Linked DNA regions of Homo sapiens. The protein of the gene in region 2 purifies or fractionates together with the protein of the main gene of each other region. This does not show direct contact. Each region holds a gene or a part of one and is shown on either strand. Other genes may lie near its edges.

Region 1 (5,198 bases), on a different chromosome or scaffold from region 2:
CATATACCTTGGGAAGGGGAAGTCGGGGGATGGCGGGGAGCCCACATCTGTGAGTTGACACCAGATTGGGGGCAGGGGAGTTCCCAGCAACCACAGGTTCCTCTAGCTTCCCAGCTGCACCTGCTCTGGGCCACCTACATCGGGGAAAGTACAGAAAAACCAGGCTTCCCCAATGGTTGCCCACCTGGCAGTGTGTATGGCTGGATTTAAAGACACAGCCACCTCCTGAGAATGTGTAGCCTCCAGCTTTGTCCCTACAGGGGGTGTTGAAGCCAGATGGCTCCAGACCCTTTGCCCAGTTTCTCCTTGCTTCCTCTCCTCTCTAGCCCACCATTGTGGAGGCTTTGCTGGGCTATGAAATGGTGCAGGTGGCCTGTGGGGCCTCTCACGTGCTGGCCCTGTCCACTGAGCGAGAACTATTTGCCTGGGGCCGTGGAGACAGCGGTAAGCTCCAGCCTTTAGGCCCCATCTCACAGCATCCTCAGCCATGACTTGCTCCCCTTCATACCCACCTTCCACCTCACAGCACATTCTCTCTTCCCTCTTTTCTCTCAAATTCTCTTCATTCATTCAACAAACCTTTATTTTACACCGACTATGTGCACACCCTGTGCTGGGTGCTGAGATGAGATGGAGATGTGGCTTCCTTCAGGTGTTTATGAGGTAATGAAGGAAATTTCATTCATCCACCTAGTTTTTTATTTTATTTTGAGATGGAGTCTCGCTCTGTTACCCAGGCTAGAGTGCAGTGGCGTGATCTCAGCTCACTGCAACCTCCACCACCGGGTTCAAGCGAATCTCCTGCCTCAGCCTCCCAAGTAGCTGGCATTACAGGCACCCGCCACCGCGCCCAGCAAATTTTTGTATTTTTAGTAGAGACAGGGTTTCACCATCTTGGCCAGGCTGGTCTCGAACTCCTGACCTCGTGATCCACATGCCTCAGCCTCCCAAAGTGCTGGGATTACAGGCGTGAGCCACCACGCCTGGCCCATCCACTAATTTTTTTTATTGAGGTCCTCTTTGGGTCAGGCATCAGGCTGGCCACTGAAACTAGAGATGACACTGATGGGTTCTTGTCTTCCTGGAGGACTCAGTCTAGTGGGAGAAAGATGACATTGCCAGCATGCCAGAGAACAGATAGCATCAGGGCTACACCCCAGTGCAGAGGCGTGGAATTCAGTGAACAGTAATGTCAACTGGAGGAGAGAGATGTCATTTGAACAGGGCTTTAAAGGAGGAGGATTTTGAGCCGGCGTGGTGGCTCACGCCTGTAATCCCAGCACTTTGGGAGGCCGAGGCAGGTGGATCACAAGGTCAGGAGTTCAAGACCAGCCTGGCCAACATGGTAAAACCCCGTCTCTACTAAAAATAAAAAAATTAGCTGGGCATGGTGGTGCATGCCTGTAATCCCGGCTACTCAGGAGGCTGAGGCAGGAGAATCGCTTGAACCCAGGAGGCAGAGGTTGCAGTGAGTGAAGATCATACCCTTGTACTCCAGCCTTGGCGACAGAGTGAGACTCAGTCTCGAAAAATAAAAATAAAAAATAAAGAAGGAGGATTTTAACCAGCAGAGGGGCCTAGGAAAGGCATTTGGGACTGAGAGAACAGAGAACTCATGCTGTTCCCTCCCCTCAGTGGGCCCTCCTCATTCGGGCATCACCCCCACTAAAGCTCAAATTAACTCCTTCTGGGTTTCTTCTTGTAGGCAGACTGGGGCTAGGCACCAGGGAGTCCCACAGCTGCCCCCAGCAGGTGCCCATGCCCCCAGGACAGGAAGCTCAGCGAGTTGTATGTGGTATCGATTCCTCCATGATCCTCACTGTGCCTGGCCAAGCCCTAGCCTGTGGGAGCAACAGGTGAATAGATCATCAGGATGACTAACCTGCCCCTGGCTCTCCTTGGCTGCAAGTGCTCCGTCCATCATTGCCTACCTTTCACCAAAGACCAGAATTGAGGGGGTTGAGGGTGCTATTGGTTCAACCCAGGGTGGGATCTGTCTCCTGGTGCACCAGCTCCTGCCCAAACTGTCTGTCAGTTGGATTTGGCTTCTGGCTCTGCCCTCAGGTTCAACAAGCTGGGCCTGGACCACCTCTCCCTGGGGGAGGAGCCTGTCCCCCACCAGCAAGTGGAGGAGGCCCTGAGCTTCACACTACTAGGCTCTGCACCCCTGGACCAGGAGCCTCTGCTGAGTATAGACCTGGGCACTGCTCACTCAGCTGCTGTGACTGGTGAGGAGGACTTGGGCTCTGGAGGTCAGAGGGGGACTCACGGTCTCCTTGGTACCCTGTTGAAGCACCCCTTTCCTTCCTCTCCCCCATAGCCTCGGGTGATTGCTACACTTTTGGCAGCAATCAGCACGGACAGTTGGGCACCAATACTCGCCGAGGCAGTCGGGCACCCTGTAAGGTCCAAGGCCTTGAGGGCATCAAGATGGCAATGGTAGCCTGTGGGGATGCCTTCACTGTAGCTATTGGGGCAGGTGAGGACTGAGCATGGTGGGGGCAGACAGTGCCATGAGCAGTGGGGGGTGGGGGTTGCTATTCAGGGCCACTGGACTCTGGAGCCTCCCAGGGGCCATCCTGGCAATGTGGGAGGGGAGATCCTGCTCGGGCTGTGCCCACTTCCCACTTCCCTCCTGGGGATTCTTCCTGGCAGAGAGCGAAGTGTACTCTTGGGGCAAAGGGGCGCGAGGTCGATTGGGAAGGAGGGATGAGGATGCCGGACTCCCTCGGCCAGTGCAGTTGGATGAGACACACCCTTACACGGTGACTTCCGTGTCCTGTTGCCATGGAAACACCCTCCTGGCTGTTCGATGTGAGTTGTAACTTTTCCCACTTCACCACACAGCCCAGCTGGCCCCTGTCCACACTCCCATCCCCAGTGTTCACAGATGGCCACATCACCAAAAGCATCTTTAGCCCCCAGATAAAAAAAGCAGAAGCTGCGGTTGAAAAGCTTCAAGCTTCCTGCCTGGGGTGGCCAAGGCTGGTGCTTCTTGGGCCTCATGGAAGGGCTGCCTCCACTGCTCCCCAGGGCTCACATGCATTCTTTCTCCTACTGCTGAGTCCCGTTGATGCTGAAACTCTCTTTCTGGCCTAACAGGGTCCAGAATCCAGGGCCCAGTGGGAGTGGGAGGTGGGTGATGATTTCTGGAGGCACTGCCCTCAGAAGCTGCAAGGGTTTCTCTTCGGTACCCTCCAGCGGTCACAGATGAGCCGGTCCCCCCCTGAGGCACCCGGATTCACCTCTGGACCACCCTGATATTGCTTCTCCTCTGAATGCTCTGAAAAGTGCAGGTGCCCAAGGCATGACTTGCAGCTGTCTCCTGGATTGTGTCATCATGGGGTATCAGGGCTGGCAAAACCCCTGCTCTGCTTTTGGCCTTGGATATGGAAACCTCAACCACTTTGTTCTCCTACCACCTCTTTGCCCTTCCTACCCCTTCCTCCCTTCAGTCAGTGTCCCCAGGGTCCAGCCTGGCTAGAGTTAGAAGGCAGACCTAGCCTTTGGAAGCAGGGTGGCCTCCAGAGCCTTGCCATAAAAAGGCTGAAGGCAGCCGGGCGCAGTGGCTCACGCCTGTAATCCCAGCACTTTGGGAGGCTGAGGCGGGCGGATCACGAGGTCAGGAGATCGAGACCATCCTGGCTAACGTGGTGAAACCCCATCTCTACTAAAAATACAAAAAAATTAGCTGGGCGTGGTGGCACGCGCCTGTAGTCCCAGCTGCTCAGGAGGCTGAGGCAGGAGAATGGCGTAAACCCCTCCAGCCTGGGCGACAGAACCAGACTCCGTCTCAAAAAAAAAAAAAAAACAAAAAAGGCTGAAGGCAGCTGTAGCTCCACACAGACCCTACCCTTTCCCCTAGCCCAGTTAGAAAATAAGTCTGGGCCGGCGGCGGTGGCTCACACCTGCATAGGCAGTGCTTTGGCCAGGAGGATCCCTTGATCCCTTGTGGCCAGGAGTTGGGAGACCAGCCTGGGGACCATAGCGAGACCGCTGTCTCCACCAAAAAAAAAAAAAAAGAAGAAAATAAGGCTGGGTGCGGTGGCTCACGCCTGTAATTCCAGCACTTTGGGAGGCCAAGGCGGGCGGATCACTTGAGGTCAGTAGACTGAGGCCAGCCTGGCCAACATGGTGAAACCCCGTCTCTACTAAAAATACAAAAATTAACCAGGCATGGTGACGGGCGCCTGTAATCCCAGCTACTCTGGAGGCTAAGGCAAGAGAATCCCTTGAACCCGGGAGGTGAAGTTTGCAGTGAGCCGAGATCGCACCACTGCACTCCAGCCTGGATGACAGAGCAAGTCTCCCTCTCAAAAAAAAAAAAAAAAAAAAAAAAAAAAAAGTATTTGGTGCTTACCGGGACTCTATCTCCATACTTTGGAGCAGGGCAAGCCAGGGCCTGCCTGGACTGGCCATTAGGCCTGCCTAGCTTCTGCATAGCCCGGGGCTGGGCGGTCCCCGGGAGTGCTGCCACCTCCCCTACACTTTCATCCTGAGGCAGGATTTGCTAGACGTCGGCTTGCCTCTCTTCCCCAGCAGGAGGGCAGGAGTCACTAAGTGCTGCAGAAAAGATCCGCGCTGGAGATTGCCCGTCCCCCCCATGCCTTTCCCCAGAAACAGTTGAGAGAATGGGTAGCTGGTGGGACCAGACCGGTTTCCCAGAGGACAGGAAGGCCAATAAAAATATCAGCTGCCTGCCTGGAGTGTGGTGTCTTCAAGGGTGGGGGTGGCGACCAGGCACCCCAGGACTGGGCTGGGCCCGACCTCGGTGGCAGGGCTGCGGCCAAGGGAGGAATGTGGGCGCAGCCGGAGGCTGGGGCCGAGGTTCCTCTGGCCCAGCGCCCAGTCCAGCCTCCCCGCCCCAGCTGGGCTCCCCGGAGCTGGTTGCCAGGCTTCGGCTGCCTAGCACCTGGAAGCTGGGGCCACGGTTCCTGGGCTGCTCACGGCCCCGGAGGCCGAGCTGTTGCCTCTGGAGAAGAAAACCTTTGTGGCGCGGCCCGTCCCCTTTTCCGACCCGCACTTCCCCGGGGCCCGCGGGCTCTGGGGAGAAGCGGAGCCACGATCTCTGTCCCCCAGGGGAAAGAAAAGCCCATGATCCCGTGGGTGGGCGAGACTGGCGGTCACCAGACCCAAAAACCATGCACTCGGGGGTGGGCGGGGCCGCGAGGGCGCGCATTAGGACCGCGCGGCCGCGG
Region 2 (7,030 bases):
AAAGATAAGATGTCTATAAGATGTCTCTAAGTTACAGACTATACGTAGAATCCCACTTTGTTCAAAACACAAAGCAATGTGCACACACTTGCCTACAGACACATCTTTCCACAGCAGAGGAAAAGTCCTAGGGCAGCTCTTTCTCAAACCAAGTGGGCATCAGGGAGGTTGAAAAAGAGAGGAGGATCTCTGCCTTCTTATTCTATATAATTTTTCTAAGTGACAGGATTATGAGTGCTATTTACTTTTAAAATATTTTTCCATAATTTTCAGATAGTATTTTCAAAATTATTACAGGAATAGGTGTCTATTTCTACTCACCACTGTATCCTTAATGCCTAAGCACCACTCAACACCGGGCGTCAATAGATAATGAAAATGTGTTGAATAAATGAATGAAAGTTATTTCTGTGCAAAGGAAAATTCTGTAATAGCTTATACTTCAGTAATATGATTCCTCATTTGCCGTGACTACATTACATGCTAATAATCAGGGTCACTTACGTGATTCAGAAAATACTGCACGATTATCTCATGGCCAGCAGCAGCTGCTTCCATCAAGGGAGTAAATCCACATATCGGCTCCCTGCAAGATGTGGGCCACAGTCAGATGATTGGAAGAGACAAGTTCCGCCAGGCAAAAACTCCCTGCTGAAGATAAACCCTGAGCAGTGCACGAGTCACCGATCCCTAAGCGTAGAACACTGTCCCTTTCCAGAATTAACAGGTGACATGAGAACAGTGAATATAACACATCAGCTCCATTTACTCTTCTGGTGTCTGTCCCCAGGGCTGGTCTTTGTCCTAAAGACAGATGTCTGCCTGTCGTCCCACCTGTTGGCTATTCCCACTGGCTACCTCTGAAATCTCCACCTCAATCATATTCAAAAAGCTGTTCTAATTCCTCACAGAAAGCCAGCATCTCCCATCCATTCATCCAAATCCTGGCTTCAAGTTCAACGTCCTCCATGAACCCACTCTGAAAAGTTCAAGTACTAATGATCTAAGCTATCTTTGCCACGCTTAGCTCCTGAAGCTTGCTTTTCATGCTTGGTTATGCTAACTCGGCACTGTCTTCAGAGGGCTTCCAAATCCCTCCTTGTCTCATGCTGGTTTGGAAGTCAGGAACCATGCATGGGAAATGCTGGTTTTCATCCATCTTAAGACACACAGTGTTCATATTTTAACATCTCTCAAGTCAGAAAACATCTTTAAATCAACAGGCGAGTTGAATGTTAATTAGTAGCATATTTTTTCTTTCTTAGTGGCATACAAAATTATCAGGTGTCTTAGAATGAATGACAGCCAGGGTGGGTGCTGCATTGGTACCCGCTGCGTTTGTTCAAAGGTGATTATTATCATGACAAGCTTTAGACAACAATCCCACTTCCAACTTATAAAACTCATGACTGGTTTTTTGTTTGTTTTTGAGACAGAGTTTTGCTCTTGTTGCTCAGGCTGGAGTGCAGTGGCACGATCTCTCAGTTCACTGCAACCTCTGCCTTCTGGTTTCAAGTGATTCTCCCGCCTCAGACTCCCGAGTAGCTGGGATTACAGGCACCTGCCACCACGCCCAGCTAATTTTTGTATTTTTAGTAGAGACGGGGTTTCACCATGTTGGCCAGACTGGTCTCGAACTCCTGACCTCATGATCTGCCCGCCTTGGCCTCCCAGAGTGCTAGGATTACAGGTGTGAGCCACTGAGCCCGGCCAAAACTCATGACTGTTGTTTTTGTTTTTTTTTTTTTGAGATGGAGTCTTGCTCTGTCACCCAGGCTGGAGTGCAGTGGTGCAATCTCGGCTCACTGCAAGCTCCACCTCCCGGGTTCACACCATTCTCTTGCCTCAGCCTCCCGAGTAGCTGGGACTACAGGCGCCCGTCACCATGCCCAGCTAATTTTTTCGTATTTTTAGTAGAGATGGGGTTTCACCATGTTAGCCAGGATGGTCTCGATCTCCTGACCTCGTGATCTGCCTACCTCGGCCTCCCAAAGAGCTGGGATCACAGGCGTGAGCCACCACGCCCGGCCTCATGACTGTTTCAAAGCATCACCTCACCTCATCCATACAAAAAGCAAGAAAATGGAAGGAATTTGCATGTAATGTATGACATTTAAATGCCATTCAGTATGTTAGGCCCCTGGCATACAATAAAACATGTAATTCTTACAACTGTATGACCCAGGTGGGTTTCAGATAAAGAAAAGGAAGCTGAGAGGGCTTGAAGAGATGCATCTCACAGATGTACGAAAAGGCCTGTGCCTGGAAGGACTCTGGTCCTACCCCTCATCTTGAGCCTCTCGTGCCGAAGCAGGGTGGCCCTAAACTCTGGTTAGCTGCCTCCAGAGCCACCCTCCTTAGAGTCAGATGACACCTAGGCCACTCCTGTGGCCACTAAAGATGTGGCAATCACCTCACGTTGGCATTGGCTCCACTGTCCAAGAGGAACCTGACCATGTGCTGGTGCCCGGCGCTGGTACAGTGGAAGAGGGCTGTCCAGCCCTGGATGTCTTTCATTTCTAGCTCTGCACCTTGCTTCAAGAGAACACAGAACGTGCGTTACGGCCTCATCTCCTCTGCGTGGGGCGGGCGCCCTCCAGGCGGCCATGCTGCAAGAATCAGAAGTGATTACACGAGCACACACGAACACCGTGGCCTGCAGTGGTTCGCATCTCTGTCAGGGTGGCCACGGAGCCCCTCAGGTTTCTGGGCCTGAGTTCCCTCGTAGCTCACCTGGAGAAGAAAGTAGGCGATGCTCTCGTTGCCACAGCTGGAGGCCAGCATCAGTGGAGTCTGCCCTTCTGGGGTCGGCACATTCACACTCACCCCCGCCTCAAGCAGCAGGTGCACGATTGTGTCGTGGCCAATGTAGGAGGCATACATCAGCGGGGTCCAGCCACCACCATTCTTCTTATTCAAATCTAACTCTCTCCTAAACAAACGCAAGATATGCTAGACATGGCCAGCCGCCTCGCATGTGGGGTTCACCAAAGCTGGTGGCGAGGCTAGGCCAGGCGGGATGAGTTGACAGGAAGCAGAAGTTATCTGCCACCCTGGACGTTGTGGGGATTGGAGGCAGGCAGGCAGAAAAATGCTGACAGTTGCTCGTACACTGCCTTGTGAGGCCCTGAGCCTTCGTCTCCTTGCTCTGATTTCGCATCCTCCTAGCCCAAGGCCAGCTATGCTCTTTCACACCACCAGATAGGCAGATGGCACTCAACCAGGGAATATGTGGCAATGTGTGAAGGCATTTTTGGTTCTCACAACTGGGCAGGGAAGGGCTGCTGGAGGCCAAGGCTGCCGCTAAACATCCCACAGTGTCCAGGACAGCCCCCACAGCAAAGAATGATCCAGCCTGGATTGTCAACACAGCCACAGTTGAAAAACCCTGACCACCACAGGCCTGGCATCTACTAGCCCACTGCTGGGTGGAGAGGAGCAGTGAGGAAAGAAGGGACTCCACCGTGGACAAGTCCCACCGCCACTGATTCATCCTTTGTCACCTCACCTTAAAGAAACATTCTTGAAAAATCTGTGACCAAAGAATCCCATCTTTCTCACTGATTGCTGTTAAAATTCTGGCAATGCATTTTCCCATGGGAAAAAACTGTGGGCTTCCTAGCTGCGACTCTGGGGTTGGGACAAGGGAGTCACATTTAAAATAATACCCACTTGCATGGTTACCTGGGATCCTACATGGTTAACGCCCACAGGCCTTCTTTCCCTTCCCCAGTTCTTGCCTGCAGAGGGGATAACAACTGGTGACTGAACCCCAGGATCTGTCCCTTTTACGGGATTCACTTTTTTGTTGTTTTTTTGAGACAGAGTCTCGCTCTGTCGCCCAGGCTGGAGTGCAGTGGCGCGATCTCGGCTCACTGCAAGCTCCGCCTCCCAAGTTCACGCCATTCTCCTGCCTCAGCCTCCCAAGTAGCTGGGACTACAGGCGCCCGCCACTACGCCCAGCTAGTTTTTTGTATTTTTAGTAGAGATGGGGTTTCACCGTGTTAGCCAGGATGGTCTCGATCTCCTGACCTCGTGATCCACCCGCCTTAGCCTCCCAAAGTGCTGGATTACAGGCGTGAGCCACCGCGCCCAGCCGGGATTCACATATTAGACCACAGCAGGCAACTACCTTCCATTGCCTGGCAGCCCTCAGTGACTCTGGGATGCACACCTGGGCAGCCATTCCAGAAGGTCCTGATACCAGGGTTCAGTGGCAGCCCCTGGCCAGGGGGGCTGCATGGAGATGCCTCTGCAGCAGGGCTCGAATGCACCCAGCTCGTCCTAACACTATCTTCCTTTACACAACAGCAGAGCATCTCCCTGGGGCTCTCTTACCACTCCTCGTTCAGCCCCACCCCTTCCTTCTGATGCCCCCAGCTCCCCTCAGGCCCCATCCTGTGCTTACTATCAGCAAGCCTCCACCTCAGCTAGTGTCAAAATCCCATCACAACACAAACGCCTCCCCCTGCTCCTCTATGGAGCGGTTATGGACTCTGCATCTTAACAGGACACCCAAAGACTTAAGAGCCTGAGAATTCCAAACGTGACCCTTTGAGGGGCCGTACTGACTGCATACCCAGCTGCCTATGCCTAGAGCCTCCTGTGGAGGGAGCGCAACAGACCACCCTGTACCAAGGTGCACCAGCACTCCATGGGCTGGGTATGTCTAAGTGAGGGCCACAACTTGGGAACCGGAGACCTGGGGCTTCAGCAATGCTTTGCTTTGGCTCACTGGGAACTGGAAGAGGCACGCAGAGAGAGGAAGAGAGGTCGCTGCACCACAATATCAAATGAGAACCAGGAGACAGAGTTAGGCTGTGTGTGGAACATAAGGGGGTGGAAGTGAGGAGACGACCCTTTTCCAAAAACAAGATGATCACATCCTACTATGGGCAAGACGCAGCCATGGACCCTGCCAGGGGCTTTATATTGTCTCTAACTATTGTACACAGATTAGCAAAGGGCAGGTGGGCAGTGACGTCGGGAGGTCATTCCCCAGAGGCACTGAAAGCCCAGCCTCTCTCCTCCTCCATGGCAGAAGCTAGAGGGGAACAGGGATCACAGGGATCGAATGAACCCTCCGGGAAAAGAAGGCCAGGGATCACTTTCTTTTTTCTTTTTTTTGTTTTTGAGACAGAGTCTCACTCTGTTGCCCAGGCTAGAGTGCAGTGGCGCAATCTCAGCTCACTGTAACCTCCACCTCCCGGGTTCAAGCGATTCTCCTGCCTCAGCCTCCTGAGTAGCTGGGATTACAGGTACATGCCACCACACCCAGCTAACTTTTATATTTTTAGTAGAGATGGGGTTTCATCATGTTATCCAGAATGGTCTCAAACTCCTGACCTCAAGTGACCCGCCCATCTCAGCCTCCCAAAGTGCTGGAATTACAAGTGTGAGCCACCGCACCAGGCCATCACTTTCTGTCTTTATTTTTATTTTGCTTGTTTGTTTGGGCATTTCTGCAATTAGTGAATAAAATTAGTCTGGTTAAAGAATGACTGTTTATAAGCTTCTGATCAAAGTTTACTCCCTCTTTTTCTTCCTAGGAATAAAAACGGCCTCTTTGTCAGGGCTCAGCATCAATACTTACTGACAGCTGCCTGAGATAAGCAGGTTAACCTATTCTACACGCATTAAACATCCACAACTGTGTGCAAAGCCCCATCACGTGGGATCGAAGCCATCACTGCGCTGCTCAAAATGTGAGAGGAAGTTCCCCGAGATCTCTTACCGCTGCACACACTCCTTCACCACTTCATACTGGCCAATGGAAGCAGCTGTGTGAAGATCCAGGGGGACATCCAGCTCCTCCCCGCTGACCTGTGTCCCGAGCCCGTGCCACATGGACAAGCTGCGGTTCAGGAGTTCCGGCTCGCTGGCTTCATCGCTGAGCTCGGACATCACTGAGGAGGAAGGCCCAAGGGTTAGATCTTTCCTGGCTGGTTGTTCCAGGGCATGAAACAGGCTGGTCCTGCCCCTGCTACACCACTGCACTAGCAGACTGATAACCCAGTGCAGTCAACCCCGGGAGTAACTCAGACAAATTTATTTGCTGAAATAATGTATGCTTTGGGCAGTCCCAACCATGCTAAATCTGGTGAGCCTGCTATCACACCAGTAAAGAGGAGCACATATGGTGAGGCATTAACTGTGGAGTACCTGCTCCTCCTTCCAACCGCAGGCACCAGGTAAAAGAGAATTCTCCACCAACTCTAGGAACCTGACAACCTCTTGGATGGGCAGTGAAGAAATGCTAATTGGGTTGTTTAACCCAATCAGTTCCTTGATGTGGTGGGGAAGAACCCTGGATTTGGGGTTTGATCAAAATTCAGCTTGGACCCGGTGCGGTGGCTCACACCTGTAATCCCAGCACTTTGGGAGGCCAAGGTGGGCAGATCACTTGAGGTCAAGAGTTCAAGACCAGCCTGGCCAACATGGTGAAATCCTGTCTCTACTAAAAATACAAAAATTAGCTGGGCATGAAGGCCAGCTACTCGGGAGGCTGAGGTAGGAGCATCACTTGAACTGAGGAGGCGGAGGTTGCGGTGAGCCAAGATCACGCCATTGCACTCCAGCCTGGGAAACAGAGCAAGACTTTGTCTCCAAAAACAAAACAAAAAAAAAAAACAACAAAAAAGCAGCTCTGCTACTTAGCAACTCCAATCCCTAGTGCCTCACTGTCTAACGGGGACATATCTAAAAAGGCTGCTATTATGATACATAAAAGAATGGATAAACAAACGGTGGCACATCCATATAATGGATGCTACTCAGCATTAAACACAAGGATCCAACAGTTGACATGCAACACGTGAATGAATTTCAAATGATTTACGCTAAATGGAAGAAGCCTGCCTACAGTATAATTTCACTTACATGACATTCTGGAAAAGGCAAAATTAAAGGGTTGGAGGTTGGGGCAGAGAGGGAATTTGGGGGACGATAGACCTGTATGACTGTGACGGTGGATCTGTGACTCCATGCCTTTATGAAACCACAGAACTGAACACCAAAATGAATTTTACTG

What was found. Proteins that work in one complex are often made in the same cells at the same time.
Region 1: the proteins of ANKS3 (region 2) and NEK8 purify together in Homo sapiens (affinity purification with mass spectrometry; 2 studies listed by BioGRID and IntAct, with this or other methods). This does not show direct contact.

Annotation. Positions count from the first base shown.
Region 1 is NC_000017.11:28,738,758-28,743,955, forward strand, and holds the end of NEK8 (serine/threonine-protein kinase Nek8), read left to right. Parts: intron 1-326; coding exon 327-444; intron 445-1,705; coding exon 1,706-1,856; intron 1,857-2,064; coding exon 2,065-2,228; intron 2,229-2,320; coding exon 2,321-2,479; intron 2,480-2,655; coding exon 2,656-2,814; intron 2,815-3,201; coding exon 3,202-3,230; 3' UTR 3,231-4,698; downstream 4,699-5,198. UniProt on the Homo sapiens protein: Required for renal tubular integrity. May regulate local cytoskeletal structure in kidney tubule epithelial cells. May regulate ciliary biogenesis through targeting of proteins to the cilia.
Region 2 is NC_000016.10:4,724,246-4,731,275, forward strand, and holds part of ANKS3 (ankyrin repeat and SAM domain-containing protein 3), read right to left. Parts: intron 5,907-7,030; coding exon of another isoform or gene 5,905-5,906; coding exon 5,735-5,904; intron 2,933-5,734; coding exon 2,734-2,932; intron 2,610-2,733; exon of another isoform or gene 2,536-2,609; coding exon 2,414-2,535; intron 587-2,413; coding exon 505-586; intron 1-504. UniProt on the Homo sapiens protein: May be involved in vasopressin signaling in the kidney.